Homo sapiens: one gene and its partners. The protein of the gene in region 5 interacts with the protein of the main gene of each other region in a biochemical or structural test. Each region holds a gene or a part of one and is shown on either strand. Other genes may lie near its edges. The genes, in order: CD226, CLDN9, DUSP5, PKN2, PATJ, TNRC6B and PRLHR.

Region 1 (3,500 bases), on a different chromosome or scaffold from region 5:
CAGAGGATGTTAAGGGCCAAAAATAACTGTAGTCACTGTCAATAAACAGACATTCCCCTGTGCTCCCCCCGTCCCCACTTTCCTTGCCCTTCGGTCCAGGCAAGTTTCAAATTCAGAAAAGTCAGTCTGGAATTATTTCATTCTACATTTCAGGACATAAGTGCAAAGGACAAGAGAAATGTATTTCTTTTCACTCAGCAAAGAAAGTCAGTGGTAAATGTGAGTTCAGTTCTTGCTTCTGCCATTTTCTCCTCTGTTCAAAACCAATCAAGGCCTGGATACTTGACCTGCTGGTTGGCAGGGGTCCTCTGTTGAGTGACCTGGTACTTGTCTGAAGATGAATGCAGGCAGGTAGGAGTCAGGGGAAGAGCCCCTCTCTGTGTGTGTGTCCGTGTCTGTGTGTGCATGTGTGTGTGTGTGTATGAATATGAGAGTCCTAAAAATCTCTCTTTTAGATCCAATACTATGTGCTATAAAAGAAGTCATTGAGAACTAACAAAAGTATGTACAGCAATTTATAAAATCTGCCACAATCACCTTTCCCTTGGCAGTTGAAATAAATTAAATCTGTCCCACATCTTATATCTGTCTCTCTGCTTTAATCTCCACATTGATTTTTGACCAAAGAGCCTCAAGACGTGAAATAATCAAATTGCACCAGAGAAAACACAAATGATCTGTTTTGCTTTGCATCTAAGTTTTATATTCAATCTTTCACTTATAAAAATTGAAAAAAGGAATTAAACTGAAACATACAGTCAATGGCTGTCATCTTCTGTCAATGATAACTTTTTACTAATGGATACAAGGTCCAGTTGACATTCTTTCAATCTGTCAACTGAATGTCAAAAAGCCATTTGCAACTGTTCAAAACACATGGACACTAACACTACTGACCATTACATTTAGTCATCTTCATTTCATTGGCAGAGTTTGACGCTGTTTATAATTTACATACAAAGAAATAGTTTTGTGCAAGAAACTTAGTCATCTTTGGACAGATGAATGACATTTTTATTAATTAATAAGAGTTAAATAACCATATCTCCTAAAAATCTGTTACCTTCATTTTCTCTATAATTTAAGATGTTTACAATTACTTTTTCAGCATATAATGGGCAAAATCTTATACGTGTTTGAAAATGATTCTTTATGACACTTTTCTGAATAGAACATTTTTTTCTTGCCTTGGTCTCTAATCTGTTTTCACTGTTTCTTTTTCCTGACCAGTTTCAAAAAATACTTCCATAATGCAAGGGATTTTTAGGTAAGAAGTTCTTTTTGTCTGTGTCTGAAGGAACAGAGTCAACATTTAAAATGAGGAGTCTCTGCTAATTTTTCCTCCCCCAAATATTTCACCAACCACTCATCATTTTCATTAAATTCTAAGTCCAATGTATGTCTCACCACAGTTCCTAGAGGAACAAGGGAGGCTTGATGTGGTCCAAGGTGATTGTGTATGAAAAGATGTTATTCCCTGAAAATGCTCTCCTTATTATACACAGAGCTATAGTGGAAGCTTCTGTTTATACAAGACCTTTTCTTCTTCATTTTCAACACAGGAAGAAATATCAGTTTGCAATATGAGCAAAGTCTATAAAGGGACAGCCAAAGCCTAGCAAGCGTTGGCTCTACAAGTCTAACATAAGTCAAAGGTAAATTAGCTGGCTGAAAGCATGTGGAAGGGAGAAGGGAAGGAAGAAAAGAAAAGGGAATGGAACAGAGTGAAAGAAGGAAGGAAGGGAAGGAAAGATGGAAGAGAGTGAGGGAGAAAGGGAGGGAGGGAACTGTAATACAGGCCTCTACACAGAACTCTATATGGACCTCTATATTTGTACTTCTGTAAATAAAAAAAAAATCACTTTTTCTCACAATCATACAAAGTGGATCTAGGTTTTGTGGGGGCTGGAATCTTACACAATTTAAGGATTCATTGTGACAAAAGAGACAAATGCCTAATACACAAATAGTGCAGTGCTTTGGAAGGGGCCTGCTCAAGTGGGAGGAAGGAAGGAAGGAAGGAAGGAAGGAAGGAAGGAAGGAAGGAAGGGAGGGAGGGAGGGAGGGAAGGGAGGGGAGGGGAGGGGAGGGAAGGGAAGGGAGGGGAGAGAAGGGAAGGGAGGGGAGGGGAGAGAAAGGAGGGGAGGGGAGGGGAGAGACAGGAGGGGAGGGGAGGGGAGGGGGGGGAGGGAAGGGGAGGGAGATGGGGAGGGGGAGGGCAGGGGAGGGGGAAGGTAGGGGAGGGAAGGAAGGGGAGGGGAGGAGGGGAGGGGAGGGAGGAAGGAAAGGAAGAAGGGAGAACAAAGTGAAAGGTAAAAATAAATTATTTTCTCTTCCGTGTCCCGACAGTGAGGAAGCTGGCCCAGAGGCAGAGCTGGGAGAGCCTGGGATGGCCTTCCTCTCTCTCAACTGTAATGCAGGCCTCTACACAGACCTCTATATGGGCCTCTCTATATTAGCACTTCTGTAAGTGAAAGAAATTACTTTTTCTCATACTCATGCAAAGTGGATCTAGGTTTTGCAGGTCCTGAAACACAATGAAAGGCTTCATTGTGACAAAAAAAAGACAAATGCCTAATATACAAATAGTGTGGTGCCTTGGAGGAGGCCTTGGAGGAGGTGGAAGCCCCAAAGGCCAATTTCACCAGCACAAAGATTATACTCAGTAATGGTCACCAAAGATCTAAGTCAGTGGTTCTTATAGTATGTTTGGGGGTCCCTGAGGATCCCTGTGTCCCTTTTGGGGATCTGCAAGGTCAAACCTATTTTCCTAGTAATATTAAGATGCAACATCAGTCTGTTTCTGCATCCACATCTGAAAAAGACTGAGAGAAAAAAAGGCTCCTGTCTGGCAAACTGGCAACCGCATTCTCAAACACCTGCTGAAATGCACTCAACGCAGCCCTGCTTCAGCCATATCAACCTAGCACTGTCTTGTATTGCTGGGGTATGTGGGGATTCTAACACCTTATCACCACCATCAAAAATATTCATGTAATTGGGAAGATAGGAGTTCTACAGCTGAAACCTGAAGGCTGGTAATACCATATGTTTTTCAGCCCTTTACGAATTTCTTTTTTAAGCTTCAGGATGGTGGCAGATAAGAAAATTGGAAAGATTTTTATTGCTGTATCTGATTGATGGATTCACAAGATAAAGAAACCCTCAATACTAGAATAATGGCCAACTCACCTAAATTCAGCCATTTAAAAAAATGCTGAATATGCGCATTAAATGAACATGTTTACCATAAATAAAAACAGAGACCAGCCCACGGGGCTGGCTTTTTCCATGTTTGATACCAGAAGATGTCTGGTGCTCACTCACCCTCGGCTACAGTCAATCTCATCACGAAGGTTTCGTTTTCTCCTGCGCTGGCCTGCAAGTAGCAGCGGTAAAGCCCCGAGTCTGAGACTGTGACATCGGGGATGACGATGACGCTCCACCTTCCGTGGCTGCAGTTGCTCACTATTTGTCTTGGGAACTTGGAGGTGAAATTT
Region 2 (3,461 bases), on a different chromosome or scaffold from region 5:
GGCTGGGCTTCCCTAGATGTCACTGGACAGCTGCCCCCCATCCTACTCAGGTCTCTGGAGCTCCTCTCTTCACCCCTGGAAAAACAAATGATCTGTTAACAAAGGACTGCCCACCTCCGGAACTTCTGACCTCTGTTTCCTCCGTCCTGATAAGACGTCCACCCCCCAGGGCCAGGTCCCAGCTATGTAGACCCCCGCCCCCACCTCCAACACTGCACCCTTCTGCCCTGCCCCCCTCGTCTCACCCCCTTTACACTCACATTTTTATCAAATAAAGCATGTTTTGTTAGTGCATTTGGTGTTGCAGCGGGTTACTGAGTGCCCACCCTGGCTAGGGGAAGAGATGGGCATAAGTGAGTCACGATCCCCTCTCCCCGTGGCTTGAGTGAGCATACCCACCAGGCAGAACCTAGAGCCAGACCTTGGCCTGACAGCCACCAAGGGAGGCCACCTGGCTGTGCCTGCCCAGCCCCAGCGGCGGCGCACAGATTAGAGGGAGCCCAGTTACAAATGCTCTTTATTTCCAACTCGAGGGTGGGGATGTTGGGGAGAGGGAGGTGATGGGCAGGCCCTCCCTGACAACTCCAGGGTTGGGAGGGCATGGTCTGCTCCCTGGTTTTGGAGCCAACGAGCTGCTGCTGTTTTGGTGAGGCCAGGGTTCCTGGGGCAGGGGAGGGCTCAGAAGAGAAGGAAGGCCAGCCAGTGTCCTGGGCAACGGAAGGAAACAATTACTGGGGAGGTGGGGGCAGGCCAGGGTTCCCAACACCTCTAGGCTGCCCAACTTGGGGGAGAACATCAAAGGGGACCCCACTGAGAAGAGCTCAGCCAGGCCAGCTGACCCAGCCCTGCAGCCAGGTGTAGCTTGGGCTTTTGGAAAGTGGGTTTTCCTGGGGAAGGAGGTTGTGATGGAGCAGGGCATCTGGTCATCAGGCCAAGGTCGAAAGGGCGGGGCAGTGGGGAGCAGTGGGCTCCCAGGGGAAACCTCCGCCTCACACGTAGTCCCTCTTGTCCAGTCCAGATGCACCCGAGCGGGAGGGGATGGAGTAGCCCAGCCGAGGTCCGCGGGGCCGCTCGACCTGGGGCGGGGGGCACGTGCAGCAGAGGAGCCCCCCGCCCAGCATAAGCAGTGCAGCCGCCGCCCAGCCCAGGTAGAGGGAGGCCCCCAGCTCCCGCTTGAGGGCCTCAGCCACCAGGGGGTTGTAGAAGTCCTGGATGATGGCGTGCGCCGTCCAGCACACAGGGATGAGCACCAGGATGCCGGCGAGGAGGAGGATGACCCCCGCGGTGAGCACGATACGGGCCTTGGCACCTTCGTCCTCCACACACGTGGTACACTGGGCACCTGTGATGGCCACCAGGAGGCCAAGCAGGGCCAGCAGGAGGGCAATGACACAGAGGGCACGTGCGGCCTGCAGGTCCTGCGGCAGAGCCAGCAGTGAGTCGTACACCTTGCACTGCATCTGGCCCGTGCTCTGCACCACGCAGGACATCCACAGGCCCTCCCACACCACCTGGGCCACCACGATGCTGTTGCCGATGAAGGCGGTCACCTTCCACAGGGGCAGGGCGCAGGACACCAGGGTCCCCAGCCAGCCCAGCACAGCCAGGGTCATGCCCAGCAGTTCTAAGCCGGTCGAAGCCATCTGGCCCCTCGGTTAGGTCTTCTCAGCCCCAGGCGGCCTAGGTGACTCAGAGGGTGTGTCTGGTGTGCTGGGTGGGTGTCTCTGTGTCCAGCAGGAGGGGGAAGGCTTGTTGGTGTCCCCAAGCCAGGCCAGTCCTCAGTTCCATGAAAGGCGCCTCTTGAAAGGCGCCTCCTCTCCGTGCCTCTTGCAGGTGTTTCTGGTCCTCGCGGAGCACAAAGCAGACTCGTAGTCCCGCTCGGCTGAGTGGTGGGTGTCACCTCGAGGGGCCTCCGCCCATCGGATGCCCTGAGGGTGCTGCTGCTCTTACCACCCCGCTGTCACACCTGGGCTGAGCTCGCACAGGCCCTCCAGACGCACTGCCAGGCTGAGGACAGCCACGTCTCCTGCCGGCTGGCGCAGGTTCCCACTGAGCGACTCTGACAGTGCCACCTGGGGACTCTGCGGGCTCTCGGCTGCAGGCGGGGTTTTAAGGCCCAGGCAGGGGAGGAGCAGAGTGAAGTGCAGGGAGGCCGGGATAGGGGAGACCTGAGCCACGGGGAGGGTGCGGGGCTGGGGGTTCGTGGGCAGCGGATGGATGAGGGGCCTGGGGGCCAGCGGGGGATGCTGCGGCTGAGTGGGGACAGGGGAGGAAAAGCGTCCGTAGCATCTGTGCATGTGGGAACCAAGGGTAAAGGAGGGGAAGATGGAGGACAAGCTGAGGAAGAAGAGACGGATCGGGGGTCAAAAAAGTAACAGGCTCAGGACAGAAACACACACAGGGGGCGTCGGCTTGCCTTCCTGAGCCTCCTCCTTCCGCAGCCCCTCCCCAGCTGCCTCTGCTCTCCCCCAGCCGAGTTTCGTGATGCAAACATGCCCCAGCTCCCCGAGTATCGCACACTCCCGCCCGCCTGGGACTCTCTGGAATCTGATCCATCCCCCGTCTCAGCCCAGTGGCCCCGCTAGCTCCCGGGGGAAGGTCCCCGCCTGCACTGTTCCCCAGACGACAGGTGCCTGGCGCCCAGCTCAGGTGGCATCGCCCTGGCAACGGCCTAGAAAACTACCCCCCACTTCAACCTCAGCTCAGGTGCGCTCTTGCCACCCCTGCTGCTGAAACCGAGGCTGAGCTGAGCTGCCTAAGATCTCCAGAGGCCAGAGGATGAGGGGCCTGTTGTGGAGGTTGGGGGGCACTCAGGAAGGGGGATGGAGGCGGGACGGGCTGGGGCTGGAACCCAGGGTGGGGCACAGCCCAGGACCCGGTTATGTTCCATGGGTGGGTGAGTGAGTGGCCAGTCAGGCCTCCCGGGCCAAAACACCCCAGAGGTGGGCACGGGGGTTAAGTCCAGGGACTCAAGTGTCCCCAAGACCTGCCTTCCAGTTTGCAGGAAAGCCTTACCTCCGGAAAAACCCCCTCAGAGCCTGTGATTCCACTCATGGGGACAGCCTGGGAGTCCCACTGACCAAAGCTCAAATCCTGACCCCTACCTGGGACAGGTCATGGAAGGTCGAGGTCCTTAACCTCCTTTGGTCAAAGACCCACTTGAGAAACCCCGTGGGACTCACAGAACATGCACCCACAAACATGTGCCCCTCATTTGTGGGGGAGGGTTCATGAACTCCTTCAAGCCCCTGCCTGGGTGCTAAGAACCTCTGAGGATTGTTGTCTGAAAAAGGGGTGTGACGGCCAGGTGCGGTGGCTCACGCCTGTAATCCCAACACTTTGGGAGGCCAAGGTGGGCGATTCACGAGGTCAGGAGTTCGAGACCAGCCTGGCCAACATGGTGAAACCCCGTCTCTACTAAAAATACAAAAAATTAGATATCCCAGCACTTTGGGAGGCCG
Region 3 (3,500 bases), on a different chromosome or scaffold from region 5:
TTCTTTCCCTTTTTGAACTTCTGTTTAGACCAAGAGGAAGAAGCCAAAGGCCTTCAGAAACCCCAAAAGTTAACACAACCTCATCTGGCTGCTCTAAATGCAGAAGCATTTCTAAGAAGTAGCATTAGGGGGTTCCCCAGATGAATCTTGAAGACACATCAGGGCTTTCTCACCCCTCACTTGGCCAAAGATGTGCCGTGCTTTCGCAACATTCTGCCAATTCTTATTTCTCTTTCACTTTCTGAGAAATGGGGGGAAAACACAACCCAAACAAACAAACAAAAGTAGAAATCTAGCTAGGCCAGATGTCCACAGCTTGAAAGCCACAGGCTCGTCATATACTGTAAGGATGTTTATTAAAGGAAAACAAACAAAATCCTAACCCTGGCATCTGGACAAGCTAATAGGATTCCTGACCAAGGAGCCCGTTCAAGAAAAGGTCATCTGGCTTTACTTTGAAGTTTATCCCCAGGGACAGGGTTTTGTTCATGGCAGGGAGCTGGCATTTTAGCATCTAGCAATCTTTCTTCTTATGATTTGGGTATGTTCTTGGTTTATGTGAAAAGTTTGAAAGGTTACTCCCACCAGGTCAGGTGTCTAGATTAGAGGCCATGTGGAAAACAGAACAAGGTCCTGAAATAATCACAACAGAGAGCTGAGAGAAAGGGGTTCTGAGCCTGATGCTGCCTTGAACCAGCTGTAGGACTCTGCAAAATCAATCATCTCACTTGTCACAGAACACTTCTTTTCCCTTCCGTAAAATGGTTAGGTTTTGATCTCTGGCTTCTGCCAGATTTGGATTCTCACCTGCTTTTTCATCTTCCTGGATGGTGCTACGTAACCCCCTTCCACTTTATTTTTCCCTTTAATGAGTTATCACAAAGCACTCATTTTTAGAAGAAAAACAAAAACTCACTAGTTTACAGAAACATGAAGCCCTCTAGTATCTTTTGATTTCCTCTGGTTTCAGTTATCTGTGGAATTGTAAGCATAAGAACCCCTTAGAGGAGCCTACTTAGCCACCCAAACAGGACTTTCTCTGTAGCACCCCCACCAACACCAGTTTCAGTTAAACATACCAATAAGACACACCTTGACAGGTACCGGGATGGTTTGCAGAAACTGCAGAGCATGGACAATTACAAAGAAAAGCAACACAGGAAGCCTGAAAGTCAACTCTGAAATGTCTTCAGGGAAACCTAGACCAGTATTTCAAAGCTTCTCTGAACCTCCGAAGCCAGATGACAATAATGTATCTTTCACTTCCCCTTTTCCCCAGAAGCTGCCAAGCATCCTGTGGCTGGTTTGCTCTTGTCAGCTCGTTTGCTGGAAGGAAGCCCATTTACTCTTGGATGGAAGCTCAAGCTGGCAAGCAACAGAAGCTCCCTAAAGCCAGGGGATTTTGCCAACACCCTGATCCACAAAAGAACTAACCATCATTGCTGAGTGGGGAGAGAACAGTCAGGTGCTGAGGAAGGAAGGGAGACAGGAGCCCAGAATACCACTCAGGATACCTCTTCCCCATCACATCACGTACCTGGTCATAAGCTGGCCTGTAGCTGACATTTACCACTGGTTTTCCACACTGGCTGATGAGGGCTCTCTCACTCTCAATCTTCTCTTGTGAAATGGGTTTTACATCCACGCAACACTCAGGATATTCCGAGTAGAAAGTCTCATATCCCCCTACAAAAACAAACAAAAAGGTGAGACAGATGGTAAGCATCAATTTCTCACGCTGTCAAAAATACCCATAGTTAATCAATACTCTGAGTGTTACACAGTTAAGAAAAAAAATAAGCCAGTACAGATTCTGGTCATTAAAAATTGAGCAAAACCAGCAAACAGATTTAGAATAGAAAGGGGCTGTACACACATACAAACCTCTAAAAAGAACTCTTTCAGAGGCAATGATTAACTTTTTGTGTCTATCAGAAGCAGATTAAACTGTGAAAGAAAGTGTCTAGCATCTGGCAAATACTAACCAAATCCCTCCAGAAAACAAAGGCTATTTTCTCTCTTGTTTATCTAAAAGGAAGGTGTGATTACCCAAAATTTCATTAATTGGCGAGAAGACAGGCTCCTGAAGTGGCTTCTTCCCCAGCCCATCTGCTCTAAGCAGGATTCTAGCTGGAACCTCCTCCATTTATAAGGAAATGGGGGCTGATACGAGGTTTCATTTCGACTCAGGGCAGTAAAACAGCCTCACTGCTTCTCACTCCCAAGGTGCTAAGAAGAACACTGCTGACAATCCTTTCTAGGTCCAATTTGGAGTCATCAATCCAGTTAATTACCTTCTAAATCAACTGAAAGAATAAAGACTTCTGAATTTAATTCTCAGCCCTCATGAGCAAAAACTGTCTCTGTCCCCTTCATGACCACCCTATCTTCTTATCCCCACTTTTCTTACTTCTCTCCTACTCCTCCTGCACCCCCCCCCCAATCAATAAGTCAACTTACGGCATGTGTGACTCTCAGAATCCTTAATATTACATTTACACCTCTCCAAATGGATATAAGGTAAAAACGACCCTCTGAGCAAGTCACGGAAACTTGCAAATATAAGTAAGCCTTCTTGGGCCCATTTCAGTGGGGAAGAACCGAATGAAAAGGTGGCCTTGGAACCCTCAGAATGCCAAGGGCTGCCAGGTGCAACAGGCCAGCCTTGCTTGGGAAACTCCTTTGCTGGTAACCCAGAGAGCAACCTGAGACATTTCCTAGGGCCTCCAGAAAGCCCACTTGTCTTTTTCTGGCCCAGAGAATTCACTTGGAGTCAAATCCATTAAACATGCATTCTGAGACCATGAATTTTCCAAAGAACCCCCTTTTTCTTTTCTGACTTTGGGTGTTGTGATGCTGGCTTTTTTAAAGCCCTGCAGTAGACAAATGGTTAATGGATTACAAGGCAGTCTCCAACTCCCTCCCAGAAGCTGCAGCCAATTCCTAGAATGAGTCATCTTGCCATTACCGCTTCCTCTCAGCTCACTGGAACTGCCCCGCCCCCACTTAGTACACCCAGATCTCCCCTGTGGTCACCTCACAAGCAGCCCATTGCGCCTGCCCATGAGCTCCTGGTCCTCCTCAATGACCATGCTCCCCACGACAACGGGAGGCCACGGCAGAGGTGCAAGATGGTGCTATAGGCAGCTTAGCTTCCCATGCTCTGCCATAGCCCCTGGGCCCCTTCCCTTCCAGCAGTCAAGAGAGAATGAGGCAGGCTCACAATGACCCACAGCTTCCTTGGAAGAGGCATCCCTAGTCAGTAAACCACCTGATCACTTCCCGTGCCTGGACCTCGACATTATGGGTTCCAGGAGACAAACAAGGATTTGGATGGGAATTTGGAGTTCAGAATGACCTGGGCCCTCCCAAACTTCAGGACGAAGGTTGGGGAAATAGGAATCTTCAGGCTACCCCATCTTTTGGCTTTAAATATATTACTTCAGAGTTGGCTATCAGGAGGACAGATAAGAGGTTCGGGTGTGGGCTGGATCCTGCAT
Region 4 (3,500 bases), about 27 Mb from region 5:
TTCATTTTTTACAGGCAATATTTATGTATATAATGTTACACAAATTTCATTTTTGTGATTGCAAAAAAAAACCAAGTATGATAATAGAGCTAGTTTCAAACAAGATTTCATCAGATAAAATTAAGACAAGCTAGACATGCATCAAGATAAAGATTCTCTATTTCTGTTTCATTAAGGAATTACTTTTTCATTAGTATATTTTTCCCACTCTAAATTTTAAATCTTTTTAAAGCTTTTAACTAGTTTTCAACTTTGCTGTCAAGTTTGAACTCTGCTGTATATCAAAAGTTGATCATATTAAATGTCATATACTGTAGAGTAAAATTGGCTTTTGAAATAATATAGACATTTGACAATTATCAGCACAGTATATTTTATGAGGGAATAATGTAGAATTAACTGTTTTATTCAAATACCATTTATGGTATGAAAGTAACATTATTTTAGGTGATGTTTACAAACTACTACTTTATTTGTTTAAAAGTAAACATGCTTCTGATGAATGGCATGAAAATTTACCATTGCCAAATTCAAAAAGCAGAAATAAGAGAGCCCAAGGAATCAGATGCTAAGCTCTGGGATAAAGAGATGATGTCTAAAAGGTGCCCCTACTTGTCCCTATTTCAACACTATGTGAATGGTAGGAATTGCATGATACTAGACCTAATCTCTATTACACTAATGAGAGATGACAAAAAAATCCATTTTAGAGCCATCATTTAGTAACACTAGTTTTAACACAGACTTTTATCTTGGTAGTCAAGAAATATTTGGAAAGTTATTTAGTATGTTTAATTCAGCAAAGTATGCGCTGCAAATTACAAACATTGTGGTAGTCTATAAGAGCAGCAACAATCAAACCTAAGCCGGAAAAACACACTGTATTGCTATATTATTCAAAGAAATTGTTGCTATACTTCATTACTGTCTATTACTAAATCCATACTACTGCACTTTTCTTTGAGACAGGTTCTCACTCTGTCACCAAGGCTGGAGTGCAGTTGCGTGATCTCAGCTCACTGCAACCTCCGCCTCCTGAGTTCAAGCAATTCTTGTGCCTCAGCCTCCCAAGTAGTTGGGATTACAGGCACACATCACCACACCTGGCTAATTTTTGTATTTTTAGTAGAGACAGGGTTTCACCAAGTTGGCCAGGCTAGTCTCGAACTCCTGACCTCAGGTGATCCGCCTGTCTCAGCCTCCCAAAGCACTGGAATTACAGGTGTGAGCCACTATGCCCAGCCTGCACTTTTCTTCTTAATAAAGCCGTGACTCATAATTGAAATATTTTGAGATTAAAAAAGGCAATAAAAGCTAATTAGATCCACTCATCTAGAACCAGTGGCAAGAAAAAAGTTTTTAACCTACTGTGATTTCTATCTTAAAATTCTCTGAGCTTCATTTTTCTTCAAAATTCTAGTAAGTAAAATGAGATAAAGAAAAAAAAGAAAAAATGGACTCTACAGCCATGGGACTTTTAGGTGGAAAAAGTCTGTCAGTCTCTAAGTGACAGAACTATGAGCAACTTTTATTTTCTTTTGTGCTTTTCCACATTTTCTGGATTTTCTGTAATACATGTGCATTACATTTCTAATTTGAAAACAATGTAAAGTCTGTCTTAACTACCCTGTTTACCTTCTCATACCACCAACCCCCAAACCACCCTAAAATTTTAATCCTCCCAACTCAGACCTTCCACTTTCCAGTGTCACTGCAAAATTAGATGCCGTCTTCTCATTTTCCATTAAATGAGTAAACTACCAGTGTGCTATATGGAAGAATGATGTAACTACTATAGAAATCCCTTTTGTACTTTTAAAGAGAATATTTTTGGGAGAAGGGATTAGAAATGTAAATTAAAGAAAACTACGTAATTTCATATGTCAAAGATTATAATGAACTTCTCTTAAAATAACCTAGACATCCCTCCTCCTACGTGACAAATGGAGCATTCTCATCAATGTATTGCGCACCTACTAAGTGTCAAACACAGAGCTAGGTTACATGTGAGTATAAAATTTTAAAGCAAAGCACAGTCTACAGAGTAATGTTAAATCTTTTGGGAAGTTTTGGGCAAGCATGTGACACCTTTCATTAGAAACAGTAATTCTTAATGAAGAAACCCTGTAAAAAGATTATTTGTACTATTATTCTTTGTGAAATATTAGACTGTATCTACAATAATAAAACACTGCTAAATTATAGACTACCAAGTGGAATGTAGAAATCATTTTTCCTTGTTACAGACGGAGCTAACAAGTAGTGTAAAGTTAATGTTGGTTAATTACGTTTTTGGCCAATTTGTAGAAAGTTCATACAACTATAACATTAGATGCAAAACATTTATAGTTCCCCAGAACTGTGGCAATTTAAATAATGGTGTAGTGGCGCCGGGCATGGTGGCTCACACCTGTAATCCCAGCACTTTGGGAGGCCGAGGCAAGCGAATCACGAGGTCAGGAGTTCAAGACCAGCCTGGCCAACATAATGAAACCCCGTCTCTACTAAAAATACAAAAAATTAGCCGGGTGTGGTGGCAGGTGCCTGTAATCCCAGCTACTTGGGAGGCTGAGGCAGGAGAATCGCTTGAACCTGGGAGGTGGAGATTGCAGTGAGCAGAGATCACACCACTGCACTCTAGCCTGGGTGACAGTGCGAGACTCCGTCTCCAGAAAAAAAAAAAAGAATAGTGTAGTGGGAAACATACAGACCTGGGTTCAAACTCAGACACACAATGTAACCATGAGCAATTTCCTTAACATTCTTGAACTTGTTTCCTGATCCACAACATGGAAATAACACCTACCTTATTGGATTGTTGTGAAGATCAAATAAGGTGTATAGGACACTAAGTACAATGTCTGATATATAGCAAATAATTTTTAAAATGTTATTTGTAGTCTCTTATAATTATCTTCTAGTACAATTATCTATACTCTCTTCTGGAAAGCAAAAACCTATCTTGTCATCTTTATATCCTCCAATATAGCTTTGGTAGATACTACATAACTGTTTGGTGAAATTAACCCCTGTAATTTAAGGGTAACTATCTCAACTTTCCACTTGAGCAAGTTACCTCTATCTAAATAAAATCTGCTGAGAATGGAATTTAAGATTCCCAGACCAACACTTTATTGGGCATTTTGATGAAGAAAATGAATCTCCAATAATCAACAAGGTAGCTTTGTTAGTACACTGCTCAATATTTGGTCTGCATTCTACAAAATTACCATTGTAGCCAACACTTTCATTCTGAGATTCTTTACAGTTTTCATTAATCCAGGTTTCTTGGAAATAGACTTTAGTTTCTTTGGCATTGCAAAAATGTCTGTTTTCTGCTATACTTCAAATAAAAAAAGAGAATACAACACAACAAATTAGTTATGAGATAAAAATTAGAAATTGGCCATTTTAAACAGCCGATTTTTATTTTTACTACAGTAAATATTCTTCCTTATACCTTGAAACCTCTAGCCACCAAAGTTTACATAGTTTATTAA
Region 5 (3,500 bases):
GCCAGGCTGGTCTCGAACTCCTGACCTCAAGTGATCCACCTGTCTTGGCCTCCCAAAGTGCTGGGATTACAGGCGTGAGTCACTGCACCTAGCCAAAATTATTTTACTTTATTTTATTTTAATTAATTAATTTATTTATTTGGAGACGGAGTCTTGCTCTGTTGCCCAGGCTGGAGTGCAATGGCGCTGTCTTGGCTCACTACAACCTCTGCCTCCCAGGGTCAAGCGCTTCTCTTGCCTCAGCTTCCCAAGTAGCTGGGATTACAGGCGCCTGCCACCACACCTGTCTAATTTTTATATTTTTAGTAGAGATGGGGTTTCACCATGCTGGCCAGGCTGGTCTCGAACTCCTGACCTCAGGCGATCCACCCGCCTTGGACTCCCAAAGTGCTGGGATTACAGGCGTGAACCACCGGGCCTGGCAATTATTTTTTTTTTTAAAAATTTTTATTCATTTATTTTATTTATTTATTTTTGAGACAGAGCCTTACTCTGTTGCCCAGGCTGAAGTGCAGTGCCGCGATCTCCACCCACTGCAAACTTCACCTCCCTGGGTTCAAGCGATTGTCCTGGCTCAGCGTCACAACCTCAGGTGTGCGCCACCACCACTGGGTAATATATATATATATATTTTGTATTTTTAGTAGAGACAGGGTTTTGCCATGTTGGCCAGGCTGGTCTCGGACTCCTGACCTCAAGAGATCTGCCCGACTTGGCCTCCCAAAGTGCCAGGATTACGGATGTGAGCCATCACGCCTGGCCTCTTTTAAAAAATTTTTAGTAGAGACTGTGTCTCGTTATATTGCTCAGGCTGGTCTCGAACTCCTGGTCCAAGCCGTCCTCCCGATTTGGCCTGTGAAAGTGTTGGGCTTACAGGCGTGAGCCACCCTTCTGGCCCAGAGAATTTCTTTACAGCCACCTTCAAGATGGAAAAGCAGGGGAAGATTAGAGTCCTGCCTTGGGGAGAAAAAGGAGCGAATGAAAGGAGGGGCAGGAGAGTGTCAGAGATATTTCTGGGGACTGCTTCTGAGACTTAAAGCACCCCAACAGTATAATAAAAGACTGTAACAAGAGTTATGGGAGTTATAAACCAGGAATCATGGATGAAAACCAATATGCAATATCACAAGGTCACATAAAATGGGTTTCCCATCAGAAAAATAGTTGTGTTTGAAGCTGAATAGAAAATTAAGCTCTATTCTGCATTTAATGAAACCGTAATAAGTTTAAGCCATACATTAATATTTCTGTAACTATAAAGCTAACATATTCATTGTAGAAAAATTGGAGAAAATTTTCAAAAAAGAAACTAAAAGTACACAGACTACTATTGAGAGATAACCACTAATAACATTAGGATGTATTTTCTTTCAGATTGCATTTTTAAAGTTAAAGAGAAAAATCTGTATATATGTTCTCATAGTGAATTCACATTTAGAACCTTGTGATTCTGAGACAATGACTCAGCATTTTCTAGTTCTTACAATTGCATTTTTACTTAACAGCATTTAATAATTATCCTTACACTGAGGAGCCAGCAGGCTGAATTTACTTGCTTTGTTAAAGTTTAACAAGAATATATTAGGTTGGGGAAGCCAAAGTGGGATTTAATTTGTTCACTTAAGACTTTGCTCCCCTTGGTGAGCCAACTTGGTAAGTTTTTTGAGAAACGGGACCAATCTACCTTGGTATTTGCATGACCATTGCTATGTTTTCTTCCTTAGGGTTTTGTGTAGATTTGGATGCCTTTTTTAAAGCCCTTATTTTAGGTTCCGGTGCAAATGGGGAGAAATTTAGTGCCTGTCAATACCCTTCCTTTTAAGTCAGTGGGATAGATCGATGCTGAAGATGTAGAGCTCACTTATTTTTTGTGTTCGTACAGCTGTCCAGCCAGTAAAGTTTGGAGACAAGGAATTGGGTCCACCTACCATATAACGCTTGACAAGTCATTTAATTCTGGTCCTCCAGAATCTGGTCCCATTTGCAAATGGTCTGCCTTACAGAGATTTGGCGAGGTTGAAAGAAAAGAATGTTCAAGAATGTGTCTTGTAATCTGTAAGCTGTTATTCTCCTGCTTTTTGTTCCTCCCTTATGTTTAATTCCGGTAAAATTATGGAGTTGTGATCTTTTTATTGGGAAGAACTCAAGTTTGTGAGTGCTCTTACTCAGATAGTTACTTTAAGAAAAGGCATAGAGACCATATGAGCTGAACTGATGAAGTCTTTCCTAAAAACACGGTGGAGGAAGAAAAAACAAAACCAAACAGGGATCTTTCTGGAAAGGCATAGATTAAAACTTTACTACAGTAAGCCACTCTCACACGTGGGCATGGGCCACTTTATATTGGGTTAGTTAGGATTGAAATGTGCTGTAAATGCACAATACACACAAGATTTTGAACAGATTTCATGTAAAAAGGAATCTAAAATATCTTATTAATTTTTATTTTTTGAGACACAGTTTCACTCTGTTGCGAAGGCTGGAGCCGCCTCCTGGGTTCAAGTGATTCTCGTGCCTCAGTCTCCCAAGTAGCTGGGATTACAGGCGTGCGCCACCACACCCTGCTAATTTTTGCATTTTTAGTAGAGACGGGGTTTCACCATGTTGCTCAGGCTGGTCTCTAACTTCTGACCTCGTGATCCACCCGCCTCGGCCTCCCAAAGTGCTGGAATTACAAGTGTGAGCCACTGATCTGAATATGTTTATTCTTAAGAGGGTTTAGTTTACCAAAGCACTTACACTGCTATGTGTATACTGCCTTAATGCCTTTTTTTTTTTTTTTTTTTTTTTTTTTGAGACGAGTCTTGCTCTTTTGCCCATGCTGGAGTGCAGTGGCTTGATCTCCGCTCACTCCAACCTCTGCCTCCCAGGTTCAAGCCATTCTCCTGCCTCAGCCTCCTGAGTTGCTAGGACTGCAGGCATGCACCACCACGTCTGGCTAATTTTTTGTATTTTTAGTACAGACGGGGTTTCACCATGTTGGCCAGGCTGGTCTCGAACTCCTGACCTCAAGTGATACGCCCGCCTCAGCCTCCCAAAGTGCTGTGATTACAGGCGTGAGCCACTGCGCCTGGCCATGTAAATGGATTAATACTCCAAATTATAGGTCCTCTCTATAACCTCCTCCCTTATACTCACTACAGTGGTGAAACATTTTATTTTTCAGTCTTCTCAGAACTAACTTACTGATTACACACTAAAATCTCTGCTACAATAATTTAATTATTAGCTTTTGCAGTGCCATGATCATGGTTCACTAGCCCTGACCCCCTGGGCACAAGGGTTCCTCCCACCTCAGCCTGGACTACAGGCACGCACCGGCACGCACCACCACGCTCAGCTAGTTTTTGTTTTTGTAGAGATGGGGTTTTGCCATGTTTTAAATCATTTTGATTGAAAAGAGATGCTAATAGTAGTTATCATTTGTTGAATGTGTACCATGTGCTAGGCCAAATGCTCTAAATTATCCTCTTTAGTGTTTGCAGTATACATATGAAGTA
Region 6 (3,500 bases), on a different chromosome or scaffold from region 5:
TTCATAACATCAAATTTAAGACAGGCTACAGAAGATCACAGGGTAACTGTCTCCATCAACTGGTAGACTATGATGGTTTAGCCCTTTCTTCCGCACATTACACATTTAACTTACCCACAGAAAGGATGTGTGCTATAACTACAGATGATCCTGAAGAGTAGAAGACATTTTTAGAATCTGAGGAAAAGTGGTTTTGTGATAGAAGAGAGGTGATCCTGAGGTTGGGAAAGACACATGAAAATCCTGAATATACTGCTAAAGGATCTCTTTGTGCCCAGGGTCTGATTAACATCTTCTTGCAGCATTTTGGGTCTATTTCAAGTCTACTAGATTACATTTCCCATGATGATACGACTGATTTCACAATAGAAATAATGATAAAAACAAAATTTTCATAAAGCTAACTATTTTAATGAGGTCGAGGAGATTCATGATTTTTAAAATGTAGTCAAATTACTACATATACACACATGTGAATTTCCAGAATAGAGCTAATATCACATTCCCTTATGTGGCACTGTAAGAGTACTGAATATAATGTGATAAACTTAACAGAATTTATCTTCTTGTTTGAATTTTGGTCATTCCAGAAATGTTCATTATTTAATCAAAAGATAATCCCTTAAATCTGCTTCTATATGGTAGAAAAGAGATGTTGGAACATTTTAAAGAAAGTTACAAAAGTAAGTGTAAACAGGCACCTGAATTTAGCAACAGTCAATGAGACATTCCATAGCCTCAGTCCACAGAGTTCTGCTCATTACTGTGACCACACATCACCAGCTGGATCAAGTACAGCTTAGATTTTAGATTTTCAATGATTCTGAATAAGTGTGACGTTCTTCATTTAAAAAATTGAAGTGAAATTTATGCCAGGTTTAAAAAATCTGAAATGCTCTTATGTGGAAGAGAGACAACGGCAAAGGAAGGTGCAGAAGGATGAAGTCACTGGGCAGCACAGATCGTGTTCCACATTAAAAGCCAGGAACTCTTGTTTTAAATTATACTAACAAGTAGAAATGCAAGCTAGATATGGTGAGCACATAGTCACTGGGCTAAAAGAGCATCACATCAAAATTATAATTCTGTCCAGATACTAAATTTAAAACAAAATTAACTTATGATTTTTAATTCACCTTAAACATTTTAAGAAACGCCAAGCCAAGCCACAACCGTTTGCTATTAACTAATTATTTAACACTCAAGGTCCTGAATCTCATTGAATCAACAGCTTAAAACTAAACAGCCCTCACCAAAATGTCAGATTCTCAAATCTGACATTTGACAAACATTTAACAAAGAATCCCGGCCGGGCACGGTGGCTCACGCCTGTAGTCCCAGGACTTTGGGAGGCCAAGGCGGGTGGATCACAAGGACAGGAGTTCAAGACCAGCCTGACCAACATGGAGAAACCCCATCTCTAATAAAAATACAAAAATTAGCCGGGCGTGGTGGCGGGCGCCTGTAATCCCAGCTACTCGGGAGGCTGAGGCAGGAGAATCGCTTGAAGCTGGAAAGCAGAGGTTGCAGTGAGCCGAAATTGCACCACTGCACTCCAGCCTGGGTGGACAAGAGTGAAACTCCGTCTCAATTAAAAAAAAAAAAAAAAAAGGATCCCTCAAAAATGAAAAGCTTCACACTTACTAGGCTTCATGGCATTGGGAGCGTTGGCGGGCGTGTTCCCCCAGCCTGTGGTCGATGCTCCTGTATCATCCATCTCGCCCCACCCAGGACTGCTTTCATTTGGCTCACCCCAAGCGGAAGTACCATTATCTGGAGCAGGTGGTGTGCTTTTGCTCCAGACTATAAAGAAAGGAAATGTCTCTAAGAATCATTTGTTAAATGAAATGCCATAATATCCAGTGGGGTGAAGGTGGAAGGAACAGGCATGCCTATATTCTGTTGGTAGAAATGTAAATAGATTCAACTTTCATGTGAGGGGTATTTGGCAATGCTACTTTTTAAAAAATCCGATGCACATTAAACTTTTCACCCAGTAACTCAACTGCCAGGAATTTTTTTTTTTTTTTTTTTTTTGAGACAGAGTCTTGCTCCATCCCCAAGGCTGGAGTGCAATGCCGTGGTCTTGGCTCATGGCAACCTCCACCTCCCAGGTTCAAGCGATTCTCCTGCCTCAGCCTCCCGAGCAGCTGAGATTACAGGCGTGTGCCACCATACCCAGCTAACTTTTGTATTTTTTTTTTTAAGTAGAGACAGGGTTTCACCACATTGGCCAGGCTGGCTTCAAACTCCTGACCTTGTGATCTGCCTGGCTCAGCCTCCCAAAGTGCTGGGATTACAGGCATGAGCCATCATGCCCAGGCTGCCAGAAAATTATACCATAAATATACTTGTAAAAATAGGTGAAATTACATGTATAACAATACTCACCGCATCACTGATAGAAAAAATTTGGAAACAACCTAAATATCCACCACAAGGGGACTGGTTAGACCAATTGTGGGTCACCCATAAAAGAAGTACTGTGTAAAGGCCAGGCACAATGGCTCACGCCTGTTATCCCAGCACTTTAGGAGCCAAGGCGGGTGGATCTCCTGAGGTCAGGAGTTCAAGACTAGCCAGACCCACATGGCAAAACCCCATCTCCAGCAAAAAATACAAAAATTAGCTGGGCGTGACGACGCATGCCTGTAATCCCAGCTATTCGGGAGGCTGAGAAGGAGGCTCACTTGAACCCGGGAGGTGGAGGTTGCAGTGAGCCAAGATTGCGCCACTGCACTCCAGCCTGGGAGACAGTGAGACTCCCTCTCAAAAAAAAAAAAAAAAAAAAAAAAAAAGAAATACTGTATATGAAGCAATTAAGCAGCAGACTATGTGCTAAAATTGGAAGCTATAAGTATAATGAGAAAAGCAAGGTGAAGAACAGTATACGAAGTACAATCCCTTCTCTGTAAAATTTTTGAATGGGACACAAACTTCTAAGAGATTACCTTTGGGAAGAGACCCTAGGGGTTAAGATTATTATTATTATTATTATTATTATTATTTTTTGAGACGGAGTCTTGCTCTGTCGCCCAGGCTGGAGTGCAGTGGCGTGATCTCAGCTCACTTGCAAGCTCCATCTCCTGGGTTCACCCCATTCTCCTGCCTCAGCCTCCCGAGTAGCTGGGACTACAGGTGCCCGCCACCACGCCTGGCTAATTTTTTCGATTTTTTAGTAGAGGCGGGGTTTCACCGTGTTAGCCAAGATGGTCTCGATCTCCTGACCTCATGATCTGTCCGCCTCGGCCTCCCAAAGTGCTGGGATTACAGGCGTGAGCCACCGCGCCTGGCCAAAGATTATTTTATTGACTATCTTTTGCTTTTCCACACAGTTTGAAGGTTTTTGCTATGTGGATGTAGCTTTTTAAAATTTTAGCAGGTTTTATTCTGCATGGGGAGCCAGTGAGAAATCTTCATTTCCTTCCTCATTCTTTTCAATACTTGAAAAAAGAATGAGTTAAAAGTAATCATTTTTCTAAGAGGCCACAAATGGATTA
Region 7 (2,635 bases), on a different chromosome or scaffold from region 5:
TGTAATTGATGTCTGGGCTCTCCTCCCAAGAGTCTAGTTGATTTGAGATGGTGCCTGGACACTAGCATTTTCCAAAGCACTTCAGGGGATTTTAATGTGCAACCAAGATTAAGCACCTTAAGAATTATCCTTTCTAGGGCTGGGCATGGTGGCTTACACCTGTAATCCCAGCATTTTGGGGGACCGAGGCAGGCAGATCACAAGGTCAGGAGTTTGAGACCAGCCTGGCCAACGTGTTGAAACCCTGTCTCTACTTAAAATACAAAAATTAGCCAGGCGTGGTGGCGCACGCCTGTAATCCCAGCTACTCGGGAGGCTGAGGCAGGAGAATTGCTTGAACCCAGGGAGGCAGAGGTTGCAGTGAGCTGAGATTGTGCCAGTGTACTCCAACCTGGGTGACAGAACAAGACTCCATCTCGGGGTGGGGGGTGGGGGCGGGAATCCTCTTTCTAATGAATCTCAGAAACATCCGAATGAAGCTTTAGTTGTACCTGCCAAAGGTGTTAATAATTTGGAGCTGAATTTGACGGTGTTACATGCCATACTTAGAGAATACTCTTTTAGTCTTCAGGCAATACCAGCTCAATCACAAAGAGGCAAATTATTGAAATCAGAATATATAGGGATTCGTTCAACAGTTTACTTACATATTTCTTATGTATCAGTCCAATCAATTCAGAAGGAATATCATCATTCAACCTTAGGTCAATTGTATTATAAAGTTACATACCATGGCCAGGTACCATGGCTCACATCTATAATTCCAAAACTTTGGGAGACCGAAGAGGGAGAATTGCTTGAGCCCAGGAGTTCAAGACCAGCCTGGGAAATATGGCAAAACTCCATCTCTACAAAAAATAGCCGGACGTGGTGGTGCACACCTGTGGTCCCAGCTACTTGGGACACAAAGGCAGGAGGATCACTTGAGCCTGGGAGGATCACTGGGCTGCAGTGAGCTATCATTACACCACTGCACTCCAGTCTCAGTGACAGAGCAAAATCTAGTCTCAAAAAAACAAAAAAAACAAAAACAACAAAAAACAACAAAAAACAAATTTACATACCATGAATTATTTTAAATCCTGGTTGTCAGGGTGTTAGAAAAAGTGCTCCTTGATTAGCTTAAGTTTATATCAACTATGAAAAACAAGCATCTCCATTAATTACTAGAAAAGCTGCCACTGGTTTCTGTCATGCCTACAACTTAAGTTTGAAACACTTACATGGACTTTATAAAGAGCTTAAAGAGGTTGGAGAATTAGATTGTGCTTATAAACATCTTTACATATTATGAAAATCAGCAACGGAACAGCAATTAATTCTTACAACATCTGAAATGTGTTGTGGACTAGTTTATAAATCAAACCGAATTTCAAAAAAATCAGAGGTGAGTCCCAGAGAGAACTGCGTAGGACTGTAGGTAGAAAATTTTATTTAATAATTCATTTTGGTTAATATCAAGCATCTAAGATGTATACACAGTCCTCTTCCTGCAAGGAGTAATACAGGCAGTCAGGCTGGGAACTGAGCCAACTTGGTACTTGGCAGCAGCCCTTCTCAAGGCTGATGGGAGGTTCTGTAATCCTCTTTGCAAGCTTTGTCACCAGGTCACACTTTTGGCAGCCAATCAATAGATTTATCTCATTAAACTGGCAGAAGAGTGTTTCAATGCATGCTCCAACAGCTACCTGGAAATAGCAATTGTGAGAGATGCTAAGGTAAGGATATTCCAGTTCCTATAACCGTCTGATTTTTTGTCCTTGTGAATTTTCAATCTGCTGTTTTACTGGGATAGCTAAGTTCCAGGTTTATTTTCTCAGGTAGGCTCACCCACGACCTCTGTCCTGTGGTTTGCATTCCTGAACATCTGTTAGTCTTTCAAATGCAAGGCACAAAACTAACCTCAAGAGTGTGGCTAGATCTGGGAGTGAACACAGGGCCTGTCCCTCACAGACGAGAGGTCAGGAGCACCTTTGTTTCCCAAGGCAGGTTCTTGATTGATTTACCTTCATGCGTTGATGTCTTTGCTATGTGTGTAAAATGCATGTGTTGCTGAATCACATGTGAAGCTCTACATGCTGGGGTTTATACTGTGTTTGGCATGTTGTGGGAGCTCAATAAATACTAAATCAGTTGCACAGTCTTCAGCCACAGGATTAATAAACCAAGCCAGTTATACATATGGGGTAACTACACAACCTCAGGATAGCCAGAGTCAAAGCAAGGATAAATCATGTCAAGGAAAACATGCTATTCAACCTAGATTTGTCAACTCCACCTTATTCCAGAGATGAACTGTTCATTTTGGGTCTTCTGTGACCCCCTGCCCCCAACCTCAGTAATGCCAGCATTTAAATATATGGCACCAAGCTCTCTACTCCCCAAGACTGCATATGCCTAAATCCACGGGTCCATCAAAATGAGAGTAGAGAACTTCATGCCTAATTTCTATACCATCATATATTGGAGAGTTATTTAAATGTTAGCATTTTATCACCCATTTCTCACACATAATTTGGGAAGGTCTAACAACATCCCACATATGGGTCTATAAGCAAAATCACGAGGTTTCTAAAATGTTCATGATGGAGTCATAAAAAAGATTTTTCAGTACACCTAAAATACCACTCAAAAA

The links.
Region 1: the proteins of PATJ (region 5) and CD226 interact in a test that uses a peptide from one of them, tested with the Homo sapiens proteins (one large-scale study listed by IntAct).
Region 2: the proteins of PATJ (region 5) and CLDN9 interact in a test that uses a peptide from one of them, tested with the Homo sapiens proteins (one large-scale study listed by IntAct).
Region 3: the proteins of PATJ (region 5) and DUSP5 interact in a test that uses a peptide from one of them, tested with the Homo sapiens proteins (one large-scale study listed by IntAct).
Region 4: the proteins of PATJ (region 5) and PKN2 interact in a test that uses a peptide from one of them, tested with the Homo sapiens proteins (one large-scale study listed by IntAct).
Region 6: the proteins of PATJ (region 5) and TNRC6B interact in a test that uses a peptide from one of them, tested with the Homo sapiens proteins (one large-scale study listed by IntAct).
Region 7: the proteins of PATJ (region 5) and PRLHR interact in a test that uses a peptide from one of them, tested with the Homo sapiens proteins (one large-scale study listed by IntAct).

What each region holds. Positions count from the first base shown.
Region 1 is NC_000018.10:69,892,374-69,895,873, forward strand, and holds part of CD226 (CD226 antigen isoform a precursor), read right to left. Parts: coding exon 3,328-3,500; intron 1-3,327.
Region 2 is NC_000016.10:3,011,545-3,015,005, reverse strand, and holds CLDN9 (claudin-9), read right to left. Parts: upstream 2,084-3,461; 5' UTR 1,644-2,083; coding exon 990-1,643; 3' UTR 501-989; downstream 1-500.
Region 3 is NC_000010.11:110,500,907-110,504,406, reverse strand, and holds part of DUSP5 (dual specificity protein phosphatase 5), read right to left. Parts: intron 1,687-3,500; coding exon 1,538-1,686; intron 1-1,537. UniProt on the Homo sapiens protein: Dual specificity protein phosphatase; active with phosphotyrosine, phosphoserine and phosphothreonine residues. The highest relative activity is toward ERK1.
Region 4 is NC_000001.11:88,687,273-88,690,772, reverse strand, and holds part of PKN2 (serine/threonine-protein kinase N2), read right to left. Parts: intron 1-3,500. UniProt on the Homo sapiens protein: PKC-related serine/threonine-protein kinase and Rho/Rac effector protein that participates in specific signal transduction responses in the cell.
Region 5 is NC_000001.11:61,745,480-61,748,979, forward strand, and holds part of PATJ (inaD-like protein), read left to right. Parts: intron 1-1,619; exon of another isoform or gene 1,620-1,653; intron 1,654-3,500.
Region 6 is NC_000022.11:40,268,425-40,271,924, reverse strand, and holds part of TNRC6B (trinucleotide repeat-containing gene 6B protein), read right to left. Parts: intron 1,804-3,500; coding exon 1,645-1,803; intron 1-1,644.
Region 7 is NC_000010.11:118,589,497-118,592,131, reverse strand, and holds the end of PRLHR (prolactin-releasing peptide receptor), read left to right. Parts: 3' UTR 1-2,135; downstream 2,136-2,635. UniProt on the Homo sapiens protein: Receptor for prolactin-releasing peptide (PrRP). Implicated in lactation, regulation of food intake and pain-signal processing.